Linked DNA regions of Homo sapiens: all the other regions are reported to be linked to region 1. The links are microRNA targets in miRTarBase. Many come from high-throughput screens and were not tested one by one. Region 1 holds a microRNA gene; each other region holds the end of a gene's coding sequence.
The links. The annotated mature microRNA hsa-miR-6895-3p reads UGUCUCUCGCCCUUGGCCUUAG and lies in region 1 at 991-1,012, opposite strand. An mRNA with a match to its seed (bases 2 to 7 or 8) in the 3' UTR can be bound and repressed. Matches are read on the target gene's strand: a 7mer-m8 pairs with bases 2 to 8, a 7mer-A1 pairs with bases 2 to 7 and ends in A, and an 8mer does both.

Region 2: the mRNA of PEAK1 is a reported target of hsa-miR-6895-3p. Seed matches in the 3' UTR shown: 7mer-m8 at 1,276-1,282.
Region 3: miRTarBase lists H6PD as a target of hsa-miR-6895-3p. Seed matches in the 3' UTR shown: 7mer-A1 at 2,647-2,653.
Region 4: the mRNA of NAV2 is a reported target of hsa-miR-6895-3p. Seed matches in the 3' UTR shown: 8mer at 639-646 and 7mer-A1 at 715-721.

The regions. Positions count from the first base shown.
Region 1 is chrX:53,194,421-53,197,597 of GRCh38, forward strand. It overlaps MIR6895 (microRNA 6895), which reads right to left and starts at 1,068; the gene lies at 991-1,068. It overlaps KDM5C (lysine demethylase 5C), which reads right to left. Exons shown (of 26, transcript NM_004187.5): 19 at 2,266-2,624; 20 at 1,496-1,634; 21 at 811-990; 22 at 511-648; 23 at 1-318.
Region 2 is chr15:77,111,722-77,114,898 of GRCh38, forward strand. PEAK1 (pseudopodium enriched atypical kinase 1) reads right to left here. Exons shown (of 10, transcript NM_001385026.1): 10 at 1-3,177. The coding sequence ends at 2,435. Among named protein-coding and RNA genes, the nearest start is that of TSPAN3, 42 kb to the left of the region's middle. RefSeq lists a silencer at 2,528-2,716.
Region 3 is chr1:9,264,357-9,267,533 of GRCh38, forward strand. It overlaps H6PD (hexose-6-phosphate dehydrogenase/glucose 1-dehydrogenase), which reads left to right. Exons shown (of 5, transcript NM_004285.4): 5 at 1-3,177. The coding sequence ends at 513. Among named protein-coding and RNA genes, the nearest start is that of SPSB1, 27 kb to the right of the region's middle.
Region 4 is chr11:20,117,937-20,121,113 of GRCh38, forward strand. NAV2 (neuron navigator 2) reads left to right here. Exons shown (of 38, transcript NM_145117.5): 38 at 197-3,177. The coding sequence ends at 322. All of the region lies in intron 2 of LOC107984418 (a long non-coding RNA gene), which reads right to left. Among named protein-coding and RNA genes, the nearest start is that of DBX1, 41 kb to the right of the region's middle.

The DNA of each region.
Region 1 (3,177 bases):
GCGCCTTGAGCGCATACACAGTGGACACAGGAATTTGGTGTCCCATTCCCACCAGGCCAGCAGTGGGGATGAGGTGGGATTGGGCCTCGGAGAGCTGAGGAGGCGAGGCACTGACACACACCGCCCATGGAACCAGTCCTGACACAGGTCACACTGCAGAGCTCCCGCCCCAGCCAGCACCTGCCCACACACACAGATAGAGGTTGTAGAGGAGGCCGTGCTCGATGATGCCAGTGGACTGGGCTTGGCCGAATTGGTGCGACGCAGCTGCAGGATACCCTCCTTCTCCTTCTGTTCCCCCTCCTTGAAGGCCACGATCTGCCATACCCAGGACAGGAGCAAAGTGGGTCAGCAGCCTACCCCTTCCCTTCTCTGGGCCCCCCCTTAACACCCCCACTCCCAAACCAGGAGAACTGAGGCTCAGGGGACAAGCGGTCTGCTCATGGCCACCCAGCTCAGACACTCTATCATCACCAAGCCCTTCTCCCCATCTGTGTCGAAGCTCCTTACCACAGAGCCTGGGTCCCTGAGGTCCTGCGCAGACAGCCCCAGCAGCTCTGTGTCAGATTTGTACAACCCCAGCTCCTTCTCCATCCACCGGCTGCGCTTGGTGCTGTCTGAGCCGGCATCTGCACATGGGCAGAGAACCTGGGGCAGGCAGACAAGAGAGGGAATGACTGGGCTTCCCTTACATCCCCCGCCTCCTTCCCTCCCTGGTGCCCCTACAAAACCCATGTTATCTCATGAGCCATCTCACAGAAGCCAGGGCAGGCGTTAAGAGACGCTGTAGGTCAAGGTCCCAGGCCTCACCTCCAGCAGCGTGTAGCAAGAATTTTTCTTGAGGAAGGTCTTGGAGGCCTTCTCCCTCCAGGAGTGCGCTGTCAGTACCTGTAGCTCTAGCTGTCTCAGCTCCTCCAGCCCCACAGGTAGGTCCCGGCCCACAGCTACTAGGCCCTCCAAGTCATCCAGGCAGGGGTAGTGGTCACCATTCTAAGGCCAAGGGCGAGAGACAGCTCAGTTCAACTTGCCAATGCTATTGATGCTTACTCTGTGCCTGGCCCTGAGCTGGAAAGATGAACTGGGCTCAGTCTTGAGGGATTAAAAAAATAGGTGTCATCCTAAGGAACAACCACTTGGCTCTCTCCCACAACACCGGCATCTACTGACTGGCTCAGCCCCAAATATCTAGTCAGCCTTCTGTTGTGGTTTGCCTCTTCTCCTCTCCTCCATGCCCCTGCCCTGCTCAGTCCCATACCACCTGCTTCCCTGGCCCACCAATCTCATCCTAACCAGTGCCCTCTCTTCCTTCAGGCCAGCCTCACACTCTTCCTCTCACCCTGCTCATCAGGCACATCTTGCCTCCTGACTACATGCCATGCCCCCTTCCTCTCTCCAGCCAACCCAACCCATCCCAGCAACCCAGCACATCCCAGTGTATATGCCATCTCTTCCCAGCTGGACTGAAGGCCTGGGGTGGGAGTGGCAGGGTCCTCACTTGGATCTCATCAACATCAGCAATCCAGGCCCGGGCCTTAGCAAGAGCCTCCTTGAGAGCCTGGATGTTGGGCAGGTGAACAGGGATGTTTTCCGCTTCACGGATTATGGCCTCAAGTGTGGCTGGTGGATGCTTCTGCCTAAAGGTAAGGAAAAAAAGAACGCTCAGTCTGATGTGGTCTGCCTGACCAGAAGCCCAGCCTGACCACCAGATATATCTGCATGGGCCCCTTGGGTGTCTGTTATTCCTGCTGTCACTTGGGCCTACTTGCTTGTATTCCACCTAAGGGTAGCTGCCAGTCCCTGCTTCCCCAAGACTGCATGCACCCAACTTCATCCCTTCTGCCACAGCTCTTGCACCTCTGTTTGTCTGCCAGTCTGCTGGCCTGCTAGCAATGCCTACATATACAACCTGTATTGTGTAATCTGTTGCTGCAGTTTGTCAACTGCCCTGTGTGGGGTCTTTCTACCAACATCTGCCCATCTGCCTGTCACTTGTGCTTCTGGGTATGCGCACATTAGCCTGTAGGGCTAGTCTTCTAGATAATCTCTATCTGTCCATTTCTGCTTCTCCATCAGCCTCTCTTTGCCTTTAAGTATACAGAGTTGTTTTTTAAAAAAACGACAAGATAGACAACAAAAGAGGGGAGAGTCAATACAGTAACACAGGAGCGTGATACCTAAGGCCACCCATGGGCATCCTCTTCTGGGTCTCCACTCAACTTTGATGTTTGGAATAGGGCAGGGAAGGGAAGCAGCAGCTGGACCTACCTGGCCTCCAGGCAGAGGTGGGCTTTCTCCTCCCAGCGTTCAGCAATGGTCAGCAGTTCCTGCAGCTCGGCCTGGGCTTTATCCACAGCAGGGCTAGGGGCTACACTGGCACCCGCGACCAACAGTCCTCGCATGACAGCCAAGGTGCCCCTTCGGGCTGAGGGGGCCAGTGTGCGTTTCACCTCATCCAGCCATCGCGCCTGTTCCACCTGCCGCTGGAGCTGCTGGGCCTCAGGCACCTCCACCCCCAGCTGCCGCCCCCTCTCCAACAGGGACTGCAGTAGCCCTGGACTGGAGGGCAGTGAGGCCAGGGCCTCACGAGCCTCAGCCTGGTAGGCCTCCACCTGTTCCAGAACACCCTACCAGGACACAGGATGAAGAACAAACTCCTCAGCTGGGCCCACTGAGGGGTTCCACCACCAGATGGAACCTTGTCCCACCTATCTTCTTACCCTCCAAGCTTTTGGGGCAAAGGAGCCTAACATGGGCTGAGCTCTCCTTCTCCAAGCCCTAAGACAGTTGGGGTTCCTAACACTGACTGCTCATTAGAATGCCCTGGGGAATTTAAGAATGCAGATTCCTGGGCCCCACCCTGAGAGATTCTTAATTAACTAATAATTATTAATCTATGCTTTATTTAACTTTTCAGAGGGCTCTGTTCTCAGGGCACCAAGAGACCTCCCTGCCCTAAAAATTGCTATGATTAGTCCTCACATAAACCCTTGTGCTCACCACCCTGGGGTCTGTTGCCCTCTCCATCTCACTCCTCCTCCACCTTCATGAATTTCCCTCCACTTTCCAAGCCCAACAAGCACCCCTGTTACCTCCTTCTCCTCTACCCCTCCTCCAGGAAACCTTACCTGGACTCTGTATCCTATACCCATACCCTTGCCACCTGACCCTCAAGGCCCA
Region 2 (3,177 bases), not on the chromosome of region 1:
AGAGAAAGAAAAAAAAAGATAAGTAGAGACATAACAAATAGAGGGACCAGGAAACATTCAGCATTAAATATGTAACCTCATTAAATAGTCAACATTGAAATTTACATGGGCAAGGCACCACGAACATGACATTGAGAAGGTATATCTCAATATGCAAGACATTGCAAGATGGGAGGTGGGGGAGGTTAAGGGAATGTGCTGGCTGACATGGTCAGTGGTCTGTGTGCTGCCCTTCAGTGCATAATCAGGCAAGGAGTTATGTGCACATGTTCTATGCTAAGATGAACCAAACACCAACCTTCAAGGCAAGGCGCGGCCATGCCACAGGACACCAAGAGCAGACTGCTGGCCTGCAGCAGCATGCCCACTCCATGGCCATTCCTAGGAGCAGAGCCCTGCACTCTGGCTAGAGGAGGCAAGACTCTTTGTGGGCTAACCAGCCTTCTTTCCTGTGAGTCCTATATTGCTGGCCAGGGGATAAGGGACATTCTCCAAATAGAGCCTCACATATTACAATCACTTAAAAAAGTAATAAGAGCACAATAAAATACATTATTTTCCTTTCCTGATCCTCTTTGTTATACATGAATCACATGAAAAGCTGTTAAAAATGTTAAAAGTTTAGAAATTTCCAAGGCCACTAATGTGCTATGTAAGTAATACTGCACAGTCAGTCTTGGCTTTAAGGAAACTCTGCACTGGTAGATGAGGGGCCTCAGGGCTCACTCACTCACTAGGCACAGAGAACATGTCTGTCAACCCTGCCACAGGTTGCTTTTCTAGAGGCCTGGCCTCTACTTCCAGCATGCGTGTGCACGCACACATGGGCACACAAGTGTACACACACATTGTTCGAGTGACTCTTGGGATTTCAAGGTCAAAGTAAACACATACTCACAGTTTTGAATAAAACAAGCACAGGTGAACATGTGTATACATACACACACACACACACACACACACACACACACACACACACACACAACCCCAGTGGAAGGAACGCTCATCTCTTAGCGCAAATATGTGCCAAGGGAAGAAGGGGGAGGGTTTCTGTAGACTCGCTTCAGGTGAAGTTGCAACATAAACACTGTAATATACAGCTAAAAAAATACATACAAAAATTGCACACATATCCATAGAAGGGGAGCACAGGCTGCACACATGGTGAACAGCTCTCAATCACCCACCTCAGCAATCAGAATTCCTGTGAGCTGTCCTCCAGAGCCATTTTACAGAGTCAGAAGGAGCAATGAGCCACTTAAACACTGGGAGGCAGTCTCTCTAGAAGAGGTCAACCTTCTGAGGAGGTCAGCAGTCTCATCAGTGGCCTTCTTCCTCTCCCCTGCCTACGGCCATCCCAACAGCCCACCTCACTGTGCCCTCTAAAGGAGATCTTAGAGCTCCACTGACAGCTATTTCATTCAGGGCAATTGTTTACAGCATTTGGTAAACTAGTTAACACTGGCTACTGATAGAAGGGAGCTGGCCAATTACTGCTCGGGGAAAACTGCAAATGCTGACAGTTCTGACAGTAATCAAAGGGTACTTTAAACTCTGTTTCCTGATGGCCCCTAGAGAATTGCACATGCAAGAAAATCATCTCCTCATGCCCTGCCAGCTATTTATAAGCTCTGAACTGCACTCCACCCTGCTGAGGCATTGGTGACACCACCTTGGGTCAGCTCTGTAATGGGCCACAAGTGGCTGATAAATCCAAACTTCACTGGCAAGTGGGGACAGAGTGGAGAATCAGGCAGTGGCAGCAGAGGGGAGACTATTAGGGCTGTCCTCCATGCAGTGCACATACTTACAGATAATGGCAATGAAAATGGGTCTATGACCCAAGGATGGGATCTCTCCTTTTCTTTCTACTCTCTCCTGGAACAAAAGATATAGTCCCTGGTAACCAAAACTGGGCTGATGCTAAGGATGGCAGTCCTGCCTAGTAAGTCAGTTGTTGACACCTTAAAGGAAGAGTCTGTTGTCAGAGTCTACTGGGTCGTGGTAGAGACTGGTTAAGTCTGTCTACTGCTAGTGAGAATAAATACTTGGTGCTAAAAAGATAGGTGATATCCAGAATTATGGAGGAAATGGACACAGCTCACTGGCTGAGTTCATACCAAAGAAGCTGTCCCTTCAAGAATATGGATTTTCATTTTTACCTGCATTTATGGGACTATTAGGATAGAAGGTGTTTCAAGGGAAGGCAACTGCAAGTTTGTGCAGCTGAATTTCTGTAAAGTTAAGACAGACTCAGCTTCTCATTCAATCTGGGGCAGTGGATAACCTTTCTGAATAGACCCACTTGTTCACGGACAGGGATAGAGGTTTGCCTTTCTTCTTTCCTTGAATTTGGAGTGAGCACTAGGGAGGGGAAGTGCATGGGTGACATGAAGAAGGTGAAGATGTAGTAAAAGCATCATCCAGGTACACATTAACGGTGCTGCAGAATTTTCACAATACAACTGAGGGAGTCTGTAGTGGCAAAAGCCAAATACTGAGCACAAAGCCAGTCCTCAAGGCTGATTCCACCTTCCCTGTCCAGGGACTTCTCAGCAAACTTGATCATGAGCAGTGTTCGCTTGATGTCTAGCCAGTTTTGGAGCAGGGTGTTCCTCTGTACTAGGCTAGGGCAGGCGGTGAAAGTCTGGAAGAGATCTTCGCGGGGGCCCCAGAGCAGACACTGGAGGATGCCTTTGGCGTCTGAAATGAGGATCCGCTCAGAAGGGTTGGGATTCAGGAGGCAGCTGGCCAGCTGCTGCAGACCCCGGGAGTAGGGGGAGCGGAATGGGATGCGAGGCAGGTCTGCTCGTGTGTATTCCCTCTCCTTCAGCTCTGGGTTCTCATCAAAGGGGTTGGGTAGGTGCAGCATCTCATAGATGAGGATGCCTGTCTGGAACTCATCACACTTTTTATACTGGGTAGCTGTTATGATCTCTGGGGCAAGGCGAGACTGGTCCCGGAGGATCTCGGGGTCCACCAGATGGCTCTTCTGCTTGGCCTGAGAGAAGTTGCTCACTATAAGCCTAGTGGGATAAGATGAGGTGGGGCTGGGCTCTGCAGGCCCAAAGCCTTGGGCAGTCCCCCCAGGCTGGTAGTGGACAAGTAGCAGGTTCTCTAGGCGTAGATCGCAGTGAGTGACATGGTAGGGTTTGAGGTGCTCAAGACCAGAGCATA
Region 3 (3,177 bases), not on the chromosome of region 1:
CGCTGCGTCCCACTCTCAGACCCGGAGTCCAACTTCCAGGGCCTGCAGGCCCACCTGCTGCAGCACGTCCGGATCCCCTACTACAACATCCACCCCATGCCTGTGCACCTGCAGCAGCGGCTCTGCGCCGAGGAGGACCAGGGCGCCCAGATCTATGCCAGGGAGATCTCAGCCCTGGTGGCCAACAGCAGCTTCGACCTGGTGCTGCTGGGCATGGGTGCCGACGGGCACACAGCCTCCCTCTTCCCACAGTCACCCACTGGCCTGGATGGCGAGCAGCTGGTCGTGCTGACCACGAGCCCCTCCCAGCCACACCGCCGCATGAGCCTTAGCCTGCCTCTCATCAACCGCGCCAAGAAGGTGGCAGTCCTGGTCATGGGCAGGATGAAGCGTGAGATCACCACGCTGGTGAGCCGGGTGGGCCATGAGCCCAAGAAGTGGCCCATCTCGGGTGTCCTGCCGCACTCCGGCCAGCTGGTGTGGTACATGGACTACGACGCCTTCCTGGGATGAGGGCGCCTGTGCCCCTTGCCCGCTTCGCTCCTGTGCTTTCCTTCGCCCGTGTCTTCCCTCCCTTCTCGGCCCCGCCACCTGCCCAGCGTGCCCTGGCTCTCCAGAACCTTCTATCCCACAGTCAGGCCCCAGAGAGGGCAGGACAAGCCTTGTCCCGATGCCTTTGACCGGCAGCTCTGTGTATTGGTGGATAGATGCAGAAACAAGGAAGAAATGGAGTCTGCTCCTGAGAAGCTTCAAATTCAGGCCAGGAGAGAAGTCTTAAGAAAAGACCTCCAGCAGTTACACATTCATATCAACCAGCACAACACGGGATGGCGCCCAAACTCCGGCGTTCACAAGAGGAGACGTGACGTGGTGGGCTGAGGTTAATCAGGGAAGGTTTCCTGGGGGAGGTGATCCTTGAACTGGCTCCCGGGGAACATTCAGAGCATGATTGGTAGACAGAAGGGTGCAGAGGCGCCCAGGGGAGTACATTGCCCCGTGCAAAGCAGGGGCATTGGGGACTGTCTTGAGACCCTGAGGGGGTCAAGCCCCTCCTTCCCCAGCTGCCCCTCCTTCTAGAACCTCTGCACATCTAGCCTCTGGCCCTCCTCTTCACTGCCTCCACCTGCTCCCGCTTGCCATCCCTGTCTCCTCCATCCTGGCTGTGCAGTAGGAATTCCAGGCTCCTCCCTGTGTCTTTGCTGTTCTTCAGACTCCATTTATAGAGAATGAGGGCTGATAACAGGAATACAGTGGCAAAGACTAGACTGTGGAAAGGGTTCCAGAAATCTTTTTTCTTTTTTAATTAAAAAAAATATTTGCAGAGATGAGCTCTTGCTATGTTGCCCAGGCTGGTCTCAAACTCCTGGGCTCAAGCGATCCTCCCATCTCAGCCTCCCAGAGTGCTGGGATTACAGGTGTGAGCTACTGCGCCCAGCCCCAGAAATCTCAGTGCTGTTTGGAGCTCCATTTCTCATTTGATGACTTGCTCTGCGTGGGGAGGTGGGGTCTCATTCCCCCAACTTCCTCAGGGAGGACCCCTGCCCTCCGCTGCTCCTCTGTCCTGCTAGCCTTCCTCCAGGAAGCACACTGGGTGCAGATAATCAGGACATTCCAGAGATCCCCAATTTAAGAGGGTCATTTCCATCTCAGGGGACTCCCGGATGGGTGTTTCCGCTCTCAATAGCCCCTCTTGTTTTACCAGGAAAGATCCAGTTAAATCACCCACTGAGGTGACAGCTCATTAGCGGGGAGAGAGATGGAGCATCGAGTGACACTGGGCCATCCAGGCGGCTCTGCTCCCACCAGACAGGAGCTAGGCCTCACTGGCAGGGGGGCTGCCCACAGCCTTTTCAGGGGCTCGCTTGGCGGGTGACGGGGCCGCAGCCAGGCCTTCTCTCCCTGCCCCTTGGTGACCCCGTGGCTTCCTGTCTGCTGGCCTCTCCTGCTACTTATCACTTCACCACGAACTCTCTGCCTGAGACTGGGGAAGTAAGCGGGTATCTTCTCAGTGAGCATAGGTTGGGGACTGTGATCTTGAGAAGCCATGGGCCAGCAATACCTGCTTTTCTGAAGCCCCCAAGGAGGGCTCTGACATTCTTTTTAAAAACACCACAAAGCAAAATTCCCAGGACATGTGTAGTTTTGTTTGTTCAGTATCCCACAACTTAAGGCTGGGAGATGGAACTCTTGGTTAAGGTCGATTTTTCTGTCTGGCTTCTCCGCACCTTCCACTTGCTCTCTGGATCAGGCAGATATAAACTTTCTAGCGCATTTTGAGAGAGGGCTTTCTTGGGTGAGGGAGCATGGCAAAGTCGGTTTCTCTCTGGACTGTTTACACTTCAAGGCGGTGGATTTAGAGGAATCCTGGCTTTCATTTTCAATGCCAGTCTGAGACATGTTCCCAAGCCGGGGCTCTTGTTCACACCACTTACTCTGGCCACCAACAACAACCCAGGCCAGACAGAGCATCTCTTTTTTTTTTTTTTGAGACAGAGTCTCTGTCGCCCAGGCTGGAGCCCAGTGGCGAGATCTTGGCTCACTACAACCTCCACCTCCCGGGTTCAGGCAATTCTCGTGCCTAAGCCTCCCGAGTAGCTGCGACTACAGGCGCCGGCCAGCATGCCTGTCTAATTTTTGTATTTTAGTAGAGACAGGGTTTCACCATGTTGCCCAGGCTGGTCTCGAACTCCTGAGCTCAGGCAGTCTACCCACCTCAGCCTCCCAAAGTGCTGGGATTACAGGCGTGAGCCACCGCGCCCAGCCAGAACATCTGTTTTTACACCCAGAGAGCGCCCCTCGTTAGGACAGAACCACGGTGCCCAGAGCCAGGAAGCCGCCCTCCTGGCGCCCAGCATCTGAGCTTCTACACGTGATGGGCGGGCTCAGGAGAGGACAGGGAGTCGTGGTGGAAGTTCCACAGCTGGCCGCGTGGGGGGGCCCTTGCACCGCACTGCCGCCTCCTGACTGCCCCTATCCCCGCAGCCCCTGTGCCGGATTTCATTTCCCTCCTCTCTCCCAGGGTACCTGGCCCCAGCACTCTCCCATCTGTTCTTCAGGAACCGACTCCTCTCCAGTTGCAACACCAGGGAGAAAGGGGCCTCCACATGCCCAAGTACCCCTGCAGGATGAAGGGCAGGCCGGCCCTTGATGTGCCATTTCTGAATAATAGTCACTGCC
Region 4 (3,177 bases), not on the chromosome of region 1:
GTCATGCAGCTAGTAATTGGTGAAGCTGGGATTTGAACCCTAGAAGCCTGGCCCAAAGTCCATGTTCTTGTCCACTGCCTCCACTGTGGGCTGTTATCCCAGGTGAGTCTGGAGGAGGTGGCATGACCTTTTAGGAGTCCAGGGTGGGCGGCCAACTAGACAGAAAGCAGCTCATGCTTCTCCACTCTTCCCCTAGATGAACATGCTGATGAGGCTGCAGGAGGCAGCCAACTACTCCAGCCCCCAGAGCTATGACAGCGACTCCAACAGCAACAGCCATCACGATGACATCTTGGACTCCTCTTTGGAGTCCACTCTGTGACAGGGGCCCGGAGCCCAGCGCCCTCCTCTTCTCCTCACCGCATTCCACCTGCATCCCCCACATCACCCTGAAGATGACTTCCTGAGCCAGCCCCCAGCCACAGCCTTAGAGCTGCGGGAACACCGAGACCCCCCGTCCTTCAGCCTCGACCTGGGTGCAGGCATCCCGGGCCAGCTGCCTGCGGACCGCTTCCTTCCACAGCGAGAACTGCACTACCTTCTGTTGTACTTTAATTATTGTTTTGCCTTGTTGCTGTGACCTCCCTAAGACACTGAAGATACTTCTCGGGAAAGGATCATCGCCGTTGAAATGAAAAGAGAGACAGAGAGAAAAAAAAAAAGAGAACCCACATGAAGCTCTGAAACCAAACAGCATCCTGCCATGAGCTTCCCAGAGACAGAAGAGACTGGAGCAAAGTCGGAAACACAGAGAAGCACGGCTTCCCCTCAGCACAGACCCTCCAGACTGGGTCTCAGAGCCGTGCCACCCACCCTCCCACACAGCCGGCCACAGGGAGAACTGGTGCTAACCAGGGTGCTTGCTTTGGTCACGTTCAACGCACTACAGAGCTACGACACAGGGAAACCTTAGGAGCAAATAAACCGTGCTTTCATGTTTTTTAAATGGTGCTTTCCTTACCCGAGAGGTATTTTGCCTGTTCCAATCAAACCACCCCATTCAGGTCCATCAGCCTCTGATTAATATCCGTGAGAGTGAGTGACGGAGTGAGAGTGTGAGCGAGTGGATGTGGCTGTCAGTGCAGAACAGCATGTGTCTCTTTCCTTCTGATATATGAATGAATCAGGTTTTTTTTTTTTTTTTTCTGCAAACACTGTGTATAGTGAGACTTGTTCTACTTTGGAGAACAGGTTACCTTTTGAAAATGAGGTTGAGTTTCTTCCTTTCTGATGCATTGATTTTTGAAGATTTTTTTTTCCCCCTTCCCCTCTTGGTCAGAATCAATCCTTTGGTGAAAGTAAGAACCGCAGGAGTTGAGTTTTGGTTTGGTCCTGCTCAGTTTTGGTTTTTAGTTGTCCATCCTCACAGTCCTACACACTCGCCTCCTCCTGCTAGGGCTGGGGGTATCTGTGTCCTTTAAAATGGATGAGGACCTGGTCCTCGACATGTGGGTGAGCCATGGACCTTGCCTTCCCTTCTCGTCCTTGAGGGTTTAGAACACACACCAACACCTCCAGCGTCCCCGCCCCAGCTTCCGGTGGGGTGATGCGGTCACCCTGCAAAAGACTTGCACTTTCCTCAGAACCAACATGACGCAGCTCAATAAGGGTGAGGGTCACTCCCTCCCAGAAGCCCCGTCTGGACGAGCCTTGCCTGACCTCTTCGGTGCTGACCTTCCCAAAGTGATGCCTTACTGGTTTTGTACTAACTGTGTTCATTTTACATAAGTGTCGTGCCTGCCTGGGGTTTGTTTTTTTTGTCATTGTTTTCCCCATTGAAACAAACAGGGCTAAAAAGTCATCTGTTCATTAGGAGAACTCAAGTTGCTGTGACTTTTCTCATCCAAAAGACTCATTTGTGTGGATGCGTGACCATGGGAAAAAGAAAAAAAAAAAGATCCATTTTTTAGGTTCTTTTCGGTCTCCAGCTGACAACCCAACTGGACAATGATCTGTCTGGTGCAGGAGAAGGCAAAAGTTTCTACAAGTCTACATGACCTTGCTGATACTTGTTCTAATAGAAACCCAGTCTGCTGTGTCTTCAACATACTGGTATTTTCATTACAAAGTATGGTAAATTTTTGAGTTGTTTGTTTCTGTTTTGTAAAGAGAATCCTTATTGGACACCAGTGAAGGTGTCTCTGTTTTAATGATCAGGGTTTTTATTCCATCTTTTGCATTTCTTCTATTTCTGAAGGTTTGTCTCTTGGCATCTTTTTTTAGTTTCTTACCATAAGAGTTTGACCCGAAACTGCTCACTTCACATTGGATGACACCATGTTCTTCCTCTTTGAAAAGAAAAGGGGAATGTGTCCCACTAGTGAAAGGAAAACTTTTCAACACTATCCCTGCTTTAGTCTCAGCAAACTCAGACTATTCTGCTTAGCCTTCATTAGTCATCTGGGTGTGAGTGTGTCTTGTTCTGTTTTTCTTTTTAATAAAACTTTTAAACCATATATTTAGCCTGTGACCAGGGGGGCCAAACCCTAAGATTTCTGGTAAACCTGAAGGGTGGCCCTCCTCAGACAATTTATCTCCCAGCAATGACCCTACTACACTCGCGTACTGTGAATTTGGGAGGAGGTAAAGTTGACTTCTCCTCGTGGGCAGTTTTCCAATCACCTTGTGAGTAGACACCTGCCAATATTGTTTGAAACCTTTTTTTAATATGACATCCTCTCTTGTCATTCTCTTCTCCCCTTTCCCACAGACTTCCCTCCTGGGTCCAGGTTCAGAACCAAGACTTCTGTACCTAGTGCTGCCTGATTGGTGAACATTGACTTCAAGTAGCATAGCCCTTGTGTGACTCACAACTCCGTGTCCTTCCTAAAGTTTCGGGAAGCAGGGTTGTCTAATATGCACATTTCTTATTTTGGTCATATTTTTACTTTAGTGTCACTCACCTTTTACAAAGTGACTTTGTACTCATTTAGGGCTCTATCGGAAATGCTTCCATTTTGCCTTTTCTACAGTTAGGCCAATTTTGAAATATATAAATTCTATGCAACATTTATGTTGAGTTACCAATGGAAGCCAAAAGTTCTCTTCCCAAACTGCCAAGAATGATACAGGCCATAATTGAAATGGGAATACCTTTTAAGTTTCATTAGGGGTGGGGTGGGAGTGGGACAGGAACAAGACTTGCCTAGATCTTTGTTGTATCTTGGGGACTTTTAC